Regions from separate parts of the Homo sapiens genome. Here region 1 is linked to region 2. A link means that fine-mapping ties the variant in region 2 to the expression of a gene that starts in the linked region. Tissue or cell type: lung. Region 2 holds a variant in brackets; the other region holds the start of a gene. All regions are shown on one strand. Distances are between the middles of the regions.

Region 1 (8,104 bases), 200 kb before region 2:
TGATGCTTCCAAATGACATCTACAGATATGGTTTTGTGGACATCTTTTTCTGTTTACATAAATTTATCCACTTAAAATGTGATAATGTGGAGACAAAGCAAGATTTGATTACATAAACTTTTCTCTGCATTGGTCTTTTCACTATCTTATTTGCTAACTTTTCTTATTTTTCTTCAACCTCCCCACCCTCCATTTTTTGGATATTAAACAGGGAAAGCTTGCTACATTATAAAGATTGTTGGCACCATTTATTTTACACAAAGGCTAAAGGTTAACTTTTGGAAATGATGAGCTACTTTTATATATGTGTTTACTCATGCTTTGTGATATTTCTGGATCATTCCAGTCATAAAGACTTATTACATGTACTATTTCTTGCTACCTGTGAAAAGGTATATTTTAAAGAATGTATAACCAACAGTCCATTTACTTTTTATTAGTATGTAGAGGATTTGTATCTAATTCATGAATGTAGTTTTACAGTAGTTTGTCATTGTAAATGGAGCAAAGTACATTATCTTCTAAAATGTACATTATGTAAGAATTGTAAATATACTTAAGTAATTTGTATGCCAAAAAATTACAATAAGTCAATAAAGATCTCACCTCTGGCTTAGTTCTTTCATGGTGATTTACATTTTCTTGTGAAATACACTGTGAACATATCTGTCAACAGCAGTTATTTTTAAGGTACTATTATTTTTAAGGTATTTCTTCCCAGCCCTTTCAAATCCACATTCATCCTATTTGCTGATTACTTCAATCAAGAAATCCATTTGGATCTTTTAAGTATATAATTCTCTTTGTTCACAGAGCTGTTATAGCCCCTAATTCATTGGCAAAAAGATAAAAGGTTTTTTTTGGGGGGTGGGGGGAGGGGCTTGCTCTAAGTTTTTTCCATTATGATTGACATTAATGTTCCTAATCTATGCAGCACATTCCCATTTTATCCTTTTAGTAAACAGACACACACACGTTTGTCAGTGAATTGGGACTGAAGGAATGGAAGGTTGAAAAAACCAAACTGGAAGTGTATCACCTGCATTTGCTTTAAAAAAAAAAAAGCTAATTGAAAGCAGACACATAAACTTTTCAATATAACTTGCTTTATTCAGCTTCATTTCATTTTCAGAATAGTTCTGTGGAGAACCCACATCAATAGTCTATAAATATTTTAAGTGAAAACAGTTTAATTTTTCAATTATTGCAAACACAAAGCTTTTTGCTTGTGGAGAAATGTTAAGAAGAAGCAAGAGAATCATCCACAATTCCATTATCTTGTGCTGTCCAAAATGGAACTCACTAGCTACATGTGGCTACTTAATTGGAATTAGACAAAGAGTTCATTTCCTCAGTCGTACTGCTACATTTTAAGAACTTTATAGCCCCATGTGGCTAGTGACTATTGTTTTGAACAGGGGAGATTGTAGAATATATACATTGTCACAGGAAGTTCTACTGGATAGCACTGAGGGAGATACTGTTACTTTTTTGTGTATACCCTTCTAGACCTTTGGGTGTGTGTATTCATACATTTATATAATGGGATCATACAGTTACCCACTTCTTTCACTTAATAGATGGGGAGAACTTTATGGGAAATTTCAAGCATGTACAGGTAGAGAAAATCAATAGCTATAAGCTCATGGCTTATATTTGTTCTCCTACCCATTTTTCCCCTTTCCTGGACTTTTTGGAACCAGATCCTAGACCTTTCACCAGCAAATCATTCCGTATGTACATCTAAAAGTTGAGGACTTTAAAAAATCGTAACACTTCTTAAACTGTAAAACTACATAATCAATATTCAAATTGGTTTCTCAAATACGATTTTTAAAATAGATCGTGCAAATCAGAATTCACATAAGTTCCATACGTTGCAGTTGGTGAATATGTTTCTTAGTCTCTGTAGGTTTTTTTTTCCATTTGTTACCATTACTATTTTTTTTTTGGAATTGGGGTCTCGCACTGTCATCCAGGCTGGAGTCCTGTGGCGATCGTAGCTCACTGCAGCCTTGGACCCCTGAGCTCAAGTGATCCTCCCACCTCAGTCTCCCACATAGCTTGGAGTACGGGTATGAGCCACCTCACCCATTTGTTAGTTTTTTAAATTTCCACCTGCAGTTTGTTGAAAACATCACTTTTAATGACTGCATTATTTTAGCTTTAACCACTTTATTGATGACCATTTGATTCTGATTTTTTGCCATCATGAACCTAGCTTTGCTTTATTTTTATGTTTGTTTTTTGAGACAGGGTCTCGCTCTCTTTCGCCAGGCTAGAGTACAGAGGCACAATCTCGGCTCACTGCATCCTCTGCCTCCTAGGTTCAAGCGATTCTCTTGCCTCAGCCTCTCGAGTAGCTGGAATTGCAGGTGTCCGCCACCACACTGCCTACTTTTTTTTTTTTTTTGAGACAGGGTTTTGCTCTTGTCGCCCAGGCTGGAGTGCAGTGTTATGATCTCGGCTCACTGCATCCTCTGCCTCCTAGGTTCAAGCGATTCTCTTGCCTCAGCCTCTCGAGTAGCTGGAATTGCAGGTGTCCGCCACCACACTGCCTACTTTTTTTTTTTTTTTGAGACAGAGTTTTGCTCTTGTCGCCCAGGCTGGAGTGCAGTGTTATGATCTCGGCTCACTGCAACCTCCACCTCCCAGGTTCAAGCGATTCTTCTGCCTCAGCCTCCTGAGTAGCTGGGATTACAGGCGCCCGCCACCATGTCTGGCTAATTTTTTGTATTTTTAGTAGAGACGGGGTTTCGCCATGTTGGGCAGGCTGGTCTCGAACTCCTGGCCTAAGGTGATCTGCCCTCCTCGGCCTCCCAAAGTGCTAGGATTACAGGCGTGAGCCACCATTCCCGGCCTAAGCCACCATGCTTGGCCTTGCTTTATTCTTATGGTTAAATATTTTGAACATTCTTAAATTATTAGGAAGATTTTCTAGAAATAAAAATGCTGTTTCAATGGTTGAGTATATTTTTGAGACTCATCCAATGTGGTAGGCACCGTGTTAGGTACTGGGTATATTGTGGTTAATAAAAAACAAATGTATATTCTGTTCTCTTGGAGTCACGTGTTCTTGCAATGAAGAAAGATGAGACTAGGGTAGTACATATATTTAGGTGGCCCTCACAGAATTATTGAGGATGGCACTTAGCCCAGACACTGGATAGGAGGTATTTAGAGATCATTTGTGTAGGTAGTGACATGTAAGCCAAGGTCTGAAGCAGAGAGGTTGGATAATCCATGCAACCTTACAATGTGGAAATAACAGGAAAAACCGTTTACCTAATCTCTGGTCAGAAATCAGAGAACTTGGCCAAAGAACTGAAGGGTTACTGTACTTACTCAAGTTCTTTGTCTATTTAGACAGCATGCACAGCACTTGCACGTGTTTACTTAAAAACTACTGGTATAGCCTCAATTCTTAGAAGACTGAAGTTAGTACGTTTTTATCTAGTTAGCAGTGTGCAACTGCCTAGGGTCAAAATTGCTACTGGCTAGCTGTGTGACTTTGGGCACGTGACCTCGGCGTGCAAAACTCCCTGGTACCCTCAAGGAGGCTCTTGATAAAGTGTTAAAAGTCTGTTTATAAAACAAAAGTGGATGAATGTCGCCCTCCAGGGCTTTGCGGTGCTGGGGCTCGGGGAGCAGCCTCGCAGGTTCGTGCGGGCGGCGGGGGCCCCCTGCTGGCCACATCCTCCAGCCTCCCTCCGCTCGGCCTCCGGCGCGACGTGCGGCCCGGGCCATTTCCTCCCAGGGCGGGGGAAAAGGGAGGAGCTGCCGGTTTAAATTGCCTAGCTGCAGCTCGTGTGCAGGGAGAGGCCGAGACGGCTTAAAGCCTCCAAGAAATTGAGGGAAAAAAGGTGCAGAGATTAAAGTTTTACCTCTTGGTGCCTCCAGCTTCGCTTTTGGCTAACCTAAGTTCCTCTGTTCGGGCGCCTCCATTCCCTTCAACACTCAGCTTGGATATCCTCTGGGGCTCGCCGCGTAGGGCGCCATTTCTCAGCCGGGACAGCGGGCCAGCCCTCAGCACGCTGGAGTCCGGAATCCCCCCCTCCCAACGCCGGGCGCCGGATCCCACCCTAACCCCTCCTCTAATACCCTTGGAACCTAGGACCCAGCGGTTTCGGCACGCCCGGCCCCGCCCCTCCGCGCACCGGCGCCCGCGATTGGCTCCAGGCGGCGCGGCCCCGCCCCTTTCATGGCCGCCGCCTGGCGCCGGGGCTAAGTGGCCGCCGGCGTCCGGGTACCCGAGGGCTCTCCCGCGTTGCTGGCACCGCTGGCGCCGCGGTCTCGTAGCGCATGGGCCTCCTCCGAGGCGGGCTCCCATGCGCTCGGGCCATGGCGCGCCTGGGCGCTGTGCGCTCCCACTACTGCGCCCTGCTGCTGGCCGCGGCGCTGGCCGTCTGCGCCTTCTACTACCTCGGCTCAGGCCGGGAGACCTTCTCCAGCGCCACCAAGAGGCTGAAGGAGGCCCGCGCCGGGGCTCCCGCCGCGCCCTCGCCGCCCGCGCTGGAGCTAGCGCGGGGCTCCGTGGCGCCAGCCCCCGGCGCGAAGGCCAAGAGCTTGGAGGGCGGCGGTGCCGGGCCGGTGGACTACCACCTGCTGATGATGTTCACCAAGGCGGAGCACAATGCCGCGCTGCAGGCCAAGGCCCGCGTCGCGCTGCGCTCACTGCTGCGCCTCGCCAAGTTCGAGGCGCACGAGGTGCTTAACCTTCACTTCGTGAGCGAGGAGGCCAGCCGCGAGGTGGCCAAGGGCCTGCTGCGGGAGCTCCTGCCGCCCGCCGCTGGCTTCAAGTGCAAGGTGAGCGGGCCGCGGCTGGGGGCTCCCGGTGGGTGGCCCACCCCATCCTAGGCGAGGTCAGTTTGCGCTCCCGGAGGGGATCCGGGGAACTAGCGGGTAGGATCTTCCCTGAGCTGCCCGCTTGCAATGTAGTGTTCACAACCTGCGGGAGGGCTCGTTCGGGGGCGTGTCCGGGAGCCAGACGCCCTCAGCTGGTGCTGAGGAGTGGAGCTGCGTTTTTAATGACCGCCTCGTTTTCCTCTCCCCCAGTTAAGCGCAGCCCCCAGGAGAGTCCGCGCGCCCCCATTTTGCTAACGTTGCAGGGTTCAGCACTGCCTTCAGAGTCTGCACCTCTGTTTATGTTCCTCAGTTTTTGACTTCTGAGGATGGGACTGGTCACCAGTAGTCATCCTGAGCAACTGGAGAGGGCCTTGGTGAGGCCTCTGGAAGTGTTGAAGTTGCAGTGACACTTCTCATTGCTCTTAAGGTATTTCAGTAGGATCTGGTCAAACTCATTGTGAACCATCTTATCTCCTCTCTGTGTCCCTTTTTCCCCTTCCTCCAAGGGTCATGAACCCATTTAGAGAAGCCTGGAGTTCCTCCGAATGAGGAAGAGAAAGCTCAAGAGGAACAGATATGATCTGGGGAGAGCACAGCTGGCCGCCTTGTCCCAGGCTGGACCAGTCTGCCTCCATGACAGCTTCCATCTCTGTTTATCATCTGTCTTCACTGCCTGGCTCTCCTTGTCTGAGATGTGTTTCTGACATAGTGTGAATTGCCTAGGTCAAATTGCTTATTTGATTTTGACCTAATAGTTGTACAGAGGGGATCCGAGGCCAGATTTTAAGGAGTAGTAGGTAATATTAAAGGGTGGAGACTGATGTTGGTTGGGGAAGCATGCTGAGACAGGAGTTGTATTATGTGAGTGACTAGGGGAGCTGTTGCCAGGATCCTACAGGCTTCGGGAGTCTCTGATAGCTCCTTGTTGCCTACGGGGTGAAGTCCCAGTTTATTGGTAGGGCTGTTGTGTTGTGAGCCTGGTCCACTTCTCTGGCTTCACCTCTCCTCCTTTGTCTACATGCACCTCATACCTTAGCTATGTAGGGAGTGGGCCTTATACATGCTGTACTGTCTGCCCACAGTGTCCTCTTGGGCCCTTGGCCATTCTTTACTCAGCTTTCACCTCTCCTGAGAAAGTCCCTAGACCCTGGGACCTCTGAAGGTCCTCGCTGGAGGAGGAGCCTGGCAACCTGTCCCAGGTGATCCTAATGACCCTAATATTTGAGAAACTTTGCACTAGTTCACGGTAGAAAACTGAGGGCCCTTGGCCATAGGGTCAGTCTGGGCAGATCTTGGGATTTGACCAGGTCTCCAAACACCGCCTTGAAGATAGCATTGTCATCTCTTCTGGGCCTACTCTGCACCGTTGCCGGATCTCTGTCCCCTTGTCCCCAGCTCCCGCTGCAGCGCTAGCTGCACAGCCAGTGCTTTCCAGCCTACTTGCCTTTGCTTTTGTCATTCCCACTGTTGGGGTGCTCCTTCTCTCCATCTCCAAGTCTTGCCCATCTTCAGATACCATCCCCTCCTTGGAGCCAAGGAAGCGTCCCTTCTTTCCTTTTCTACTTCCCTGGTGCTGTGACTGTATCATGTCTTATCATCCATCCCTATGTACAATGCCTGGCACTCTTAGTTGGCACCAGAAATATTGGCCCAGGGGTAGATCCAGCCTCAGGGCCGAGCCCCTCCTGTCTTGGAGTAAGTGTTTCATGCTCGGACTACCCCACTTTACTGGGCCCAGTTCTGGCAGCCTCACTCAAGGCCTGGAGGCAGCTGCAAATGACCAGAGGGAACTGATACCTCCTCTGTTGAGGGGTGAGGGTTTAGTGTCTGGGGACTTCTAGCCAGATGTCAGTGATTGGATAAGGGGTTATCAGTCCTGGCATAAAATTGCTCCCGTTACTTCTTTTTTTTTTTTGTGAGATGGAGTTTCGCTCTTGTTGCCTAGGCTGGAGTGCAGTGGCACGATCTCAGCTCACTGCAACCTCTGCCTCCTGGGTTCGAGCGATTCTGCCTCAGCCTCTCGAGTAGCTGGAATTACAGGTGCCCACCACCACGCTGGCTAAATTTTTTGTTTTTTTTTTTTTGAGACAGAGTTTTGCTCTTGTCGCCCAGGCTGGAGTGCAACAGTGTGATCTCGGCTCACTGCAACCTCTGCCTCCAAGGTTCAAGTGATTCTCCTGGCCCAGCCTCCTGAGTAGCTGGGATTACAGGCGCCCGCCACCACGCCCGGCTAATTTTTTGTATTTTTAGTAGAGATGGGGTTTCATCATGTTGGCCAGGCTGGTCTCAAATTCCTGACCTCAGGTGATCCACCCACCTTGGCCTCTCAAAGTGCTGGAATTACAGGCGTGAACCACCGCGCCTGGCCTCCGTTACTTTGTTTTGTTTTGTTTTTGATAAGAATTCTTGCTATGTTGCCCAGGCTGGTCTTGAACTCCTGAGCTCAAGCAATTCTCTTGCCTTAGCCTCCTGCATAGCTGGGATTACAGGCACACACCACTGCACCTGGCATTCCCATGATTTTTGAGTTCATATTTTGTAAATTTTTCTGTTTGTGATGAAAAGTGCTCTTTTTTTCCTTTAAATGTGCGATTCTAAAAGGTTTGCTTCATTTTACTTGTGATTTAATTCTTCCTCAGGTTTGGAATATTCCTGAAAAGAACATATGTCACATGCCTTTCCTCTGTCTGGAGTTCTCCCTGCCTCCATCCTTGGTACTCAGCTTTCAGGTCTCGGCTTTGGTGTTCTTTCCTTGGTAAACCTTTCCTGAGCCCCCATTACACACTTTCAAACTCCAAGCACTGTTCCTTAGTAACATTTATCACAGTTGTATTTATATAATCGTTGGAGTAATTATTTGTCTTCCTTGCTAGACTCTAAACTCCTTAAGGGCACTGACATTGACGTGTCTTAAATGCTGCCTCCCTAGCACCTGACAGATGAGGGAATTTTATACTGGAATTGTTTTTTCAGTATTGACTCGGAAGAAGGAAACTAGAATTTCTCACTCTGGCTGTGCCAGAGCTGGAAGGGATTTGGAGTATATAGCATGACAGGTGAGGAAACTCGCCCAAGGCTTTCTGGAGAAGTTACTCAGTTGTGGCTGGACCTGCATCCTAGGTCAGTGCTGTTCCCTTTGTGCTGTATTTCCCCTTTAAGGAGCACTTCTGTCTTGTAAAGTCCAGGGGGCAGTTTATTCCCAGGGAGAATTGATTTGAGTGGTGTTAGAACTGTCTGAAGATAGCCTGGGGGCTCCTCT
Region 2 (8,104 bases):
TCCTCATCAGCCCTGTGATCTTTCCTGTGGCCCTGCTGTGCTGGTGCCCTGTGAGGTCCTGTGGACACAAGAGACTGCACGGGCCACACCCCCAGCTGGGTGAGTCCTCTCCCTCCTGGGTACTCTGGACAGTAAAGAAAGATGGACACGTGGGCTCCGTGGAGCATGAGGTAGTCCAGGACCTCGGCGGCCACAGGTCCTGCCTCCCTGCTTCTCGTGCCCTCCCTCCCTTTGGGTCTCTGCTCCACCTCGGTAAACGCTTCGTTCCCACCCCTCGAAGGGTAAATCGAGCTCCTTGGTGGTAAAGCACCCACTGCCCCTAGTCAGAGGGTCCCTCCTCTCTGATGTCATGGTGCCCTGGTCTGCCTGGTAGAATTTTAGCTGCTTTATAACCTGGTCCTGAAATGAACCACTGGGAAGAAATAGGGTAAAATGAACACACAGCTGCCACACTGCATCCCAACCCTGTGTGACCCTATCACCGCAGACTTTTGTGGCAAGATGACAGCATCTCAGTTTGCTTGAGAAGCTTATTTTTGCCAAGGCTGTTACCACCAGGCAGGCACCAGAGCTCGGTTCCACTCACAGCAGAACACAAGCAGTGGCCCTGTGGATTCCCCTGTAAGAATGTCCGGAGGGAATGCTTCCCCCTCGCCAGGATCAGACTCTTGGCACTCTCTGTGATACGTGAGACCTTGAGGAAGGTTCCTCCGTTCCCAGAAGCGGAGCAATGTGCTGGTGCTGAGAAGTGGCCCCTCAGGGCCACCCTGGGCAGGGTCTCCGGTTTTATTCCCCCGTACCTTCTGCTTCATCACGCAGATCCTATCCTGGGTTTGGGTGGGGAAGTCTCTCTGCGGGGGCCGGTGGGGCAGCATCTCCAGGCTGGGAGGCAGAGCTGGTTCTGCCACGATGTGTCCTCCCCGTGAGGACCCACTCCCACGCCTGTCCCTGCCACAGTGGGCCTCCTGATGGTCCTCCTTCCTCCAGGTCACCGGCACGATTGCTGTGGCCCCTCCTCTGTGGGTGTGGGCTTGGACGCCTCTCCCCTCCACCTGCACACCCCTTGCAGCACACATGAGGCTTAGCTATTAAAGAGGCTGGAGGACAGTGCAGCGCTTTAACCCTGGCCCTCACAGGGAGGTGTCTAGGTCTTTCTTCTCCCCTCCAGATGGAAGCATTTGGGTAGAGGACCTAGAAGAGGCTAACACTCCCTGAACTATGAACCTAGATTGGTTTCTAAATCTGCTGAGAGAAAAATTGAACTTGAAGTGACATTCCTTCTAAAGTAGACATCATCCTACATGGCTCTTCTACAGCTGTCTTTCACCCTAACCCATGGTGTGCCCTGGGCTGTCGCAGGCCCCCAGCCCCTGCCCAGCCTTTCTGAAGTGCCAGGCTTGGGGCTCAATGAATGAGCCTTGTTCTAAAGCAGAAAACAGTTCTGTTCCAGTCAGGGTTCAGCTGCCTGCGTCTTGATGAGATCTCTGTTCAGGATTGTGTCCCCTGCTTCTCTCTCCCTTCTCCTTTTCAAGATCACAGGTGAAGACAAGGGGGTGGAAAGTTCTACCTAGATTGCTGCTATCTTAAGAATGTGGACTTTGGAGCCAGATTGTCTGGGTTTAGTCCCTGCGTCTGCTGCTTACTAGGTGTGTGACTTTGGGCAAATACCTTGACCTCTCTGTGCGTCCGTTTTCTTGGCTGTGAAATGATGTATCATCTCAGAGCACCCATCCCCTGGGGTTGTGTGGGGAGTAAGTAAGCCGGTCTAGTATGGCGCCTGGTACATCCTCAGTCAATAATATCAATGTTGGCTGTGGTGAGGACGTAGCAGAGGATGGTAGAAAGAATCTGAGGCTTGGGGTCCAGAGCCCTGGGTTCAGGTCCCAGCTCTGCCACTTGCTGGTGTAGTGATGCGGATTCTGCACCCCGGAATGTGGCAGTGTTTGCATGCAGGCTGGCTGTGAAGACCCAGGGCAGCAGGCCGGCAGGCTGGTTCCCCTGCACACCGGACTAACTCTGTCCTCTCTCTCCACAGGCACACATTCTGGCAGTTCCGCCATGAGAACCCCCAGACCCGGGTTGGGGGCCCGCCCCCCGAGGGGCTGCCGGGCTTCAACAGCGGGGTGATGTTGCTGAACCTGGAGGCCATGCGCCAGTCCCCGCTCTACAGCCGCCTGCTGGAGCCGGCGCAGGTGCAGCAGCTGGCCGACAAGTACCACTTCCGCGGCCACCTCGGGGACCAGGACTTCTTCACCATGATCGGCATGGAGCACCCCAAGCTCTTCCATGTGCTGGACTGTACCTGGAACCGGCAGCTGTGCACCTGGTGGAGGGACCATGGCTACAGTGACGTCTTCGAGGCCTATTTCAGGTGTGAGGGCCACGTCAAGATCTACCACGGGAACTGCAACACTCCCATCCCGGAGGACTAGGCGCTCCCCGTGCCTTGCCCCCGGGGCCTCCAGATCTGGGGGAAGGACAGGGTTCCTTGGGACAGACCCAAGGGCAGTGTCTGACCCGCTAGAGAGACACCGCAGGGAAGTCCTGTGATTAAGGTGCTGAGACCTCCTGCCGGGCAGGTCACTGTGCTGAGGCCACCCGCCAAGGACTGGCCTGTGCACTGCTGGTGCTTGGGACCTTATTCCTCCAGGGAGCAGGCGACACAAAGGACACGCATGTCCAGTGGGCTGGGAAGCAAGCACTTGAAGAGAAGGAAGGGGAGAAAGGGTCCCCCTTGCTGTCTGCCTCTGAGGAATGGAAATCCTTTAGACCCGGCCTTTTTTGGACCAATATAAATTTAATTTAAATTGACAGCCTTCCATTTTTCGAGAAAGTACAAACAGAACTGCTTTAGCACCCATCGAGCCCCAAACGGGTAAGGTAAGCCAAGGTTTTAATGACCAGCCCAGTATCTAAGCTTCCAAACGAATGCCAGCCCATCACATACTCACCCTGGGAGGCTGCTGCACGCGCATTCTCCTGATGCTCACGTCACTTGGTGTAGGTTTCAGGATCGCCTCTTTGAGGAAGGACTTCAGGACCAACTGGGGCCTGCATAAGAAAACTTATCTCATTATTAGAGTACTCACAGCTTGTATCTCCCAGCTACATCCTAGAACCCCATTGTCCTTTATTCCACCAAACCAGCTCCAGGTGACCAGACTCTACTCAGAAAGCAAATTCGTCATCAAAGAACAGAGACTGGCCACCACAAGGACATGCAGGAGAACTGTCGGGACCAGGAAGACTCATTCCAAAAAGCCCAGGCCGGGCACAGTCGTCAAGCCTGTAATCCCAACACTTTGGGAGACCGAGGTGGGGGTATCGATTGAGCCTCGGAGGTCGAGATCAGCCTGGGAAACACAGGGAGGCCCCCATCGCTACAAAATATTTTAAAAATTAGCCAGGTGTGGTGGCTTGTGCTTGTTGTCCCGGCTACTTGGGAGGCTGAAGTGGGAGGGTGGCTTGAGTCCAGGAGTTCACTGCACTGAGCTGTGATCACACCACTGCACTCCAGCCTGGACGACAGAGTGAGACGTCCATCTCAAAAAAAAAAAAAAAACCAAAAAGGAACCCAGCAATTCCCAAGTGTGACCATGTGGGCTTGGAAGACATGTCACTCATGGGCTAGTAAGCATTCTAGTTTCTTTGTTTAAAAAATCCCCTTATCATACCACGTTAGACCGTAGACCTTAGCAGAAATTAAAGCGTCATTTCTTTTGATGGGGCCTCCTGTACGTAGGCTGCAGACGTGAAAGCCCCAGGGGTCCATTTGTATCAATTTTCATCTTGTTTTGTTTTGATTTCATTTACGTTTTTCTTTTTCCCATGAGTGAGGATAGC[C/T]AATAAATCATCTTTGAGAACATGGTGATTCATGTTGTTTGTTCTCTGATCACAGTTTCAGCTGCATGAAGGCTCTGAATCAAGTGTGTACTCAATGCCATTGGAATCCCCACCTCCCCTGATGAAGATGAGTGCTTACAGGAGATCCTAAGGACCAAGGAGAGGGCACATCTGAGAGGGTGTCAGAGAGGGTAGTATTGGCATGTTTGGTTCAAAGCAAGGAATCATTTCATTCTAGGTATTGGCAGGTCCACCTGCACTGGGGAGCAAAAGCATCCCCATTTCTTCTCATCCCTCTTACCCTAGACTGCCCAGTTACATCCTGCCCTGAAGAGGTGGAGCAGATATCTTTCCCAGCCCTCTGCTGTGACAGAATTGGTCTGTTCTCTCACCTACTTGATTTCCTATTTATAGGTAACAATTCTTGAATGCCTGCTGTGCACCAGCCATTGTATTGGGGGATTTATTACGCTATTGATAATGTTTATGAAAACTTCATGAAGGTCATTATGTCTAAAGTCGACTGTAAGAAAATGTGAGAGATGTGGACAGAGTCATATACTATATGTTTATCACATTTTTTATAGTAGAAGAAAATTGGAAGCAACTTAAAATGTGAAAAAGAGGGGCCAGGCGCGGTGGCTCACACATGTAATCCCAGCACTTTCAGAGGCTGAGGCCGGCAGATCTCTTGAGCCCAGGAGTTCAAGACCAGCCTGGGCAACATGGCAAGGCCCAGTGTCTACAACTATACAAAAATTAGCTGGGCATGGTGGTGCACGCCCAGCTATTCAGGAGGCTGAGCTGGGAGGATCACTCAAACCCAGGAGGCAGAGGCTGCAGTGAGCTGAGATCACGACACTACACTCCAGCCTGGGGGACCGGGCAAGACTCTGTCTGTCTTTAAAAAAAAAAAAAAAAAAAAAAAAAAAAGAATGGAATAGGTAGATGAATAATATGCTTCATCCATATAACAGAATACTTGAGGCATTATTCGAAGAATATGTAATGCCTCAGGAAATACTTAGAATGTGCTATTAAATAAAGAATGCAAAATGTAAGATCATATGTTTAATACGATCCTATTTTTAAAATTACATATATGTGTATGTATATCAGTGTACACACGTGTGTATAGATACATACCTACACACACACGTATGTATAAAAAGAGCATCTATTCTGCTGTATTTCAACTTCTAAAAACATAGGTGTTTCAAACACCACATTAAAAAAACAATTATTTCAACGGGAAAAAAGTGAGTTAAAGGCTAAAGAATTTTAGACTCACAATAATAAAGGTATTTTCCCTGCAATCCTTTCTATAATTAAAATGTGTCTATAGCTATGTGTGTATTTTGTTGTTGCAAGAAAAAAACAATAAGCTGGTTGGTCAAAATGGGCAAAGGCCAAACAACATCCCTCATTTACTTTTAAGTAAACCTCTCAGGAGCTTCCCCTCTGTCACCAGTGGCCTCGACCTTCCAACCCCCCAGTGCACAGCAGACTGTCACTGCACAGGCACCCCAGCCCACCCACAGATCACACCCCAGCCCGCTGACAGATCACACCCCAGCCCGCTGACAGGTCCCACCGCAGCCCACCAACAGATCCCACCCCGGCCCGCGGACAGATCACACCCCAGCCCGACAGATCACACTGCAGCCCACCAACAGATCACACCCTGGCCCATAGACAGATCACACCCCAGCCTGCTGACAGATCACCACATAGGCACCCCAGCCCGCCGACGGATCACCACACAGGCAGCCAGCCCACCGACAGATCACTCCACAGCCTGCCGACAGATCACACCCCGGCCCACCGACAGATGACTTCACAGGCACCCCAGCCCGCCCACAGATCACCGCACAGGCACCCCAGCCCGCCCACAGATCACACCCCAGCCCCCCGACAGATCACCGCACAGGCACCCCAGCCTGCCCACAGATCACACCCCAGCCCGCCGACAGATCACACCCCAGCCTGCGGACAGATCACTGCACAGGCACCCCAGCCCGCCCACAGATCACACCCCGGCCCGCCGACAGATCACTGCACAGGCACCCCAGCCCGCCCACAGATCACACCCCAGCCCACTGACAGATCACACCCCAGCCCGTCAACAGATCACACCCAGCCCACCAACAGATCACTGCACAGGCACCCCAGCCCGCTGACAGATCACACCCCAGACCGCTGACAGGTCACACCACAGACCGCCAACAGATCACACCCCGGCCCACCAACAGATCACTGCACAGGCACCCCAAACTGCCCACAGATCACACCTCAGCCCACCGACAGATCACTGCACAGGCACCCCAGCCCGCCGACAGATCACACCCGAGCCCGACAGATCACACCCCAGCCTGCCGACAGATCACTGCAGAGTCACCCCAGCCCGCCCACAGATCACACCTCAGCCCCCCGACAGATCACTGCACAGGCACCCCAGCCCGCTGACAGATCACACCCCAGACCGCCGACAGATCACACCCCAGACCGCCGACAGATCACACCCCAGACCGCCGACAGCTCACACCCCAGCCCGCAAACAGATCACCGCACAGGCACCCCAGCCCGCTGAGAGATCACACCCCAGGCCGCTGACAGATCACAGAGCGCCGACAGATCACACCCCGGCCCGCCAACAGATCACACCCCGGCCCGCCAACAGATCACACCCTGGCCCGCCGACAGATCACCGCACAGGCACCCCAGCCCGCCCACAGGTCACCGCACAGGCACCCCAGCCCGCCCACAGATCACCGCACAGGCACCCCAGCCCGCCCACAGGTCACACCCCAACCCGCTGACAGATCACTGCACAGGCACCCGAGCCTGCTGACAGTTCAAACCCCATCCCCCCGACAGATCACTCCCCAGCCCGACAGATCACCGCACAGGCACCCCAGCCCGCCGACAGATCACACCCCAGCCCGCCCACAGATCACCGCACAGGCACCCCAGCCCGCCCACAGATCACACCCCAGCCCGCTGACAGAGCAGCCGGGGCTTGCTGTGCCTCGCCATTGCCGTGCTTGACAAGTCGTGGAGTGCCAGCTCCTGACCTGGGTCCTGTTACAGTTGCTGTCATGCAAGCATAGTTCCTTGTGCTGTGCTTAACTTGCTTCATGGAAACCCACTCTCGAGAATACGCCTGTACATATGAGGAAAACAGAAATCTGAAAAGATAACATGTCTGGGTGCTAGGATTAAGGTGCTTTTTGTTTTCATCTATATTTCTGTATTTTCCACATCGAGTATTAATTACCTTTATTATAAGATAATAAATGCTGTACATTTTTAACCACATCCCTTCTCCCCAGTTCCAGGTGAGTGTCAGCCTGGCCGTCTTACAGCTCCCGGCTGTCCATGGCCGATGTCACCCCTAAGAACACATAATCTAGGCTGAGTCGGCTCTGGGTCTTCAACTTCCCTGTGGATGCCCCAGTTCTCCAAATAAAAGCGATCTAATAATAGCAGCTCCAGACCCTGCTTTCATTTCTCATATACTGTCATCTTTTGTGTATACACAAAGTCCACCCTACAAATGATGATGGCCTTTGGAAAGCACGCAGGCTTGCTGAAGAGATTTGCTCTTCTGTGTGTGTCAAACCAAACAGACTGCGGCCTCTCCTTCAACAGCATTTCATCAAGTCAAAGTATGATGTGTTGGTTCACAGGCCCAACCTAGAGCACACCAGGAGTTTGTAGGTTAAGGTAGTAAGTGCAGCTGTGTCTTGGCACCTGCTTTGACTAGAGGCCAAACCTCTGCTAATTTTAACACTTCCTGGCTGATCTTAATATGGGAGGCCCACGGGCTGGGCTAAATCTGGAGGTTGGCAGGGAGCAGAAATTTCCAAGCAAGCAGGTGGTATAGTGGAGACAGCCTCACACCCGAGACGGAGGCCTGGCTTTGAGTCCACATCCTGCCCTCACTACCTGGCCATCTTGGACAGGCAAGGCCACCTCTTTCCCCAGTTCTAGACACTGGTAAGAGCTCCTCAAAGGAGTGTGGAAGGAGGAAAAGATGTGTAAGGACTTGGTAAGCTGTGAAATAATACAGATGTAAGGGAATTCTAACCATTATTACTTAGAATATTCTTTTTAAATTATAAATTACAGCCGTTTTGGAGCTCATGAAATGTGTTGGTAGCATCTCCGTAACCCCATGGATGAACAGATGCATGCTTGTAAGCTGTCCAATTTTTGTTGGCTGTGCCACTCCACAAAAACCAGTAGGTCAGGGGCTACC

The links. PIP is the estimated chance that this variant, and not a neighbour inherited with it, causes the effect.
Region 1: XXYLT1 starts here. The variant in region 2 is fine-mapped to the expression of XXYLT1 in lung (TOPMed, PIP above 0.99).

Annotation. Positions count from the first base shown.
Region 1 is chr3:195,267,257-195,275,360 of GRCh38, reverse strand. It overlaps XXYLT1 (xyloside xylosyltransferase 1), which reads left to right and starts at 4,202. Exons shown (of 4, transcript NM_152531.5): 1 at 4,202-4,806. The coding sequence starts at 4,303. ACAP2 (ArfGAP with coiled-coil, ankyrin repeat and PH domains 2) reads left to right here. Exons shown (of 23, transcript NM_012287.6): 23 at 1-616. RefSeq lists silencers at 3,572-3,801, 4,052-4,581, 4,742-4,921 and an enhancer at 4,172-4,963.
Region 2 is chr3:195,064,043-195,072,146 of GRCh38, reverse strand. XXYLT1 (xyloside xylosyltransferase 1) reads left to right here. Exons shown (of 4, transcript NM_152531.5): 4 at 2,036-3,863. The coding sequence ends at 2,432. Among named protein-coding and RNA genes, the nearest start is that of XXYLT1-AS1, 26 kb to the left of the region's middle. RefSeq lists an enhancer at 2,616-3,815. The variant C/T (reference allele first, on the strand shown) is at 3,844.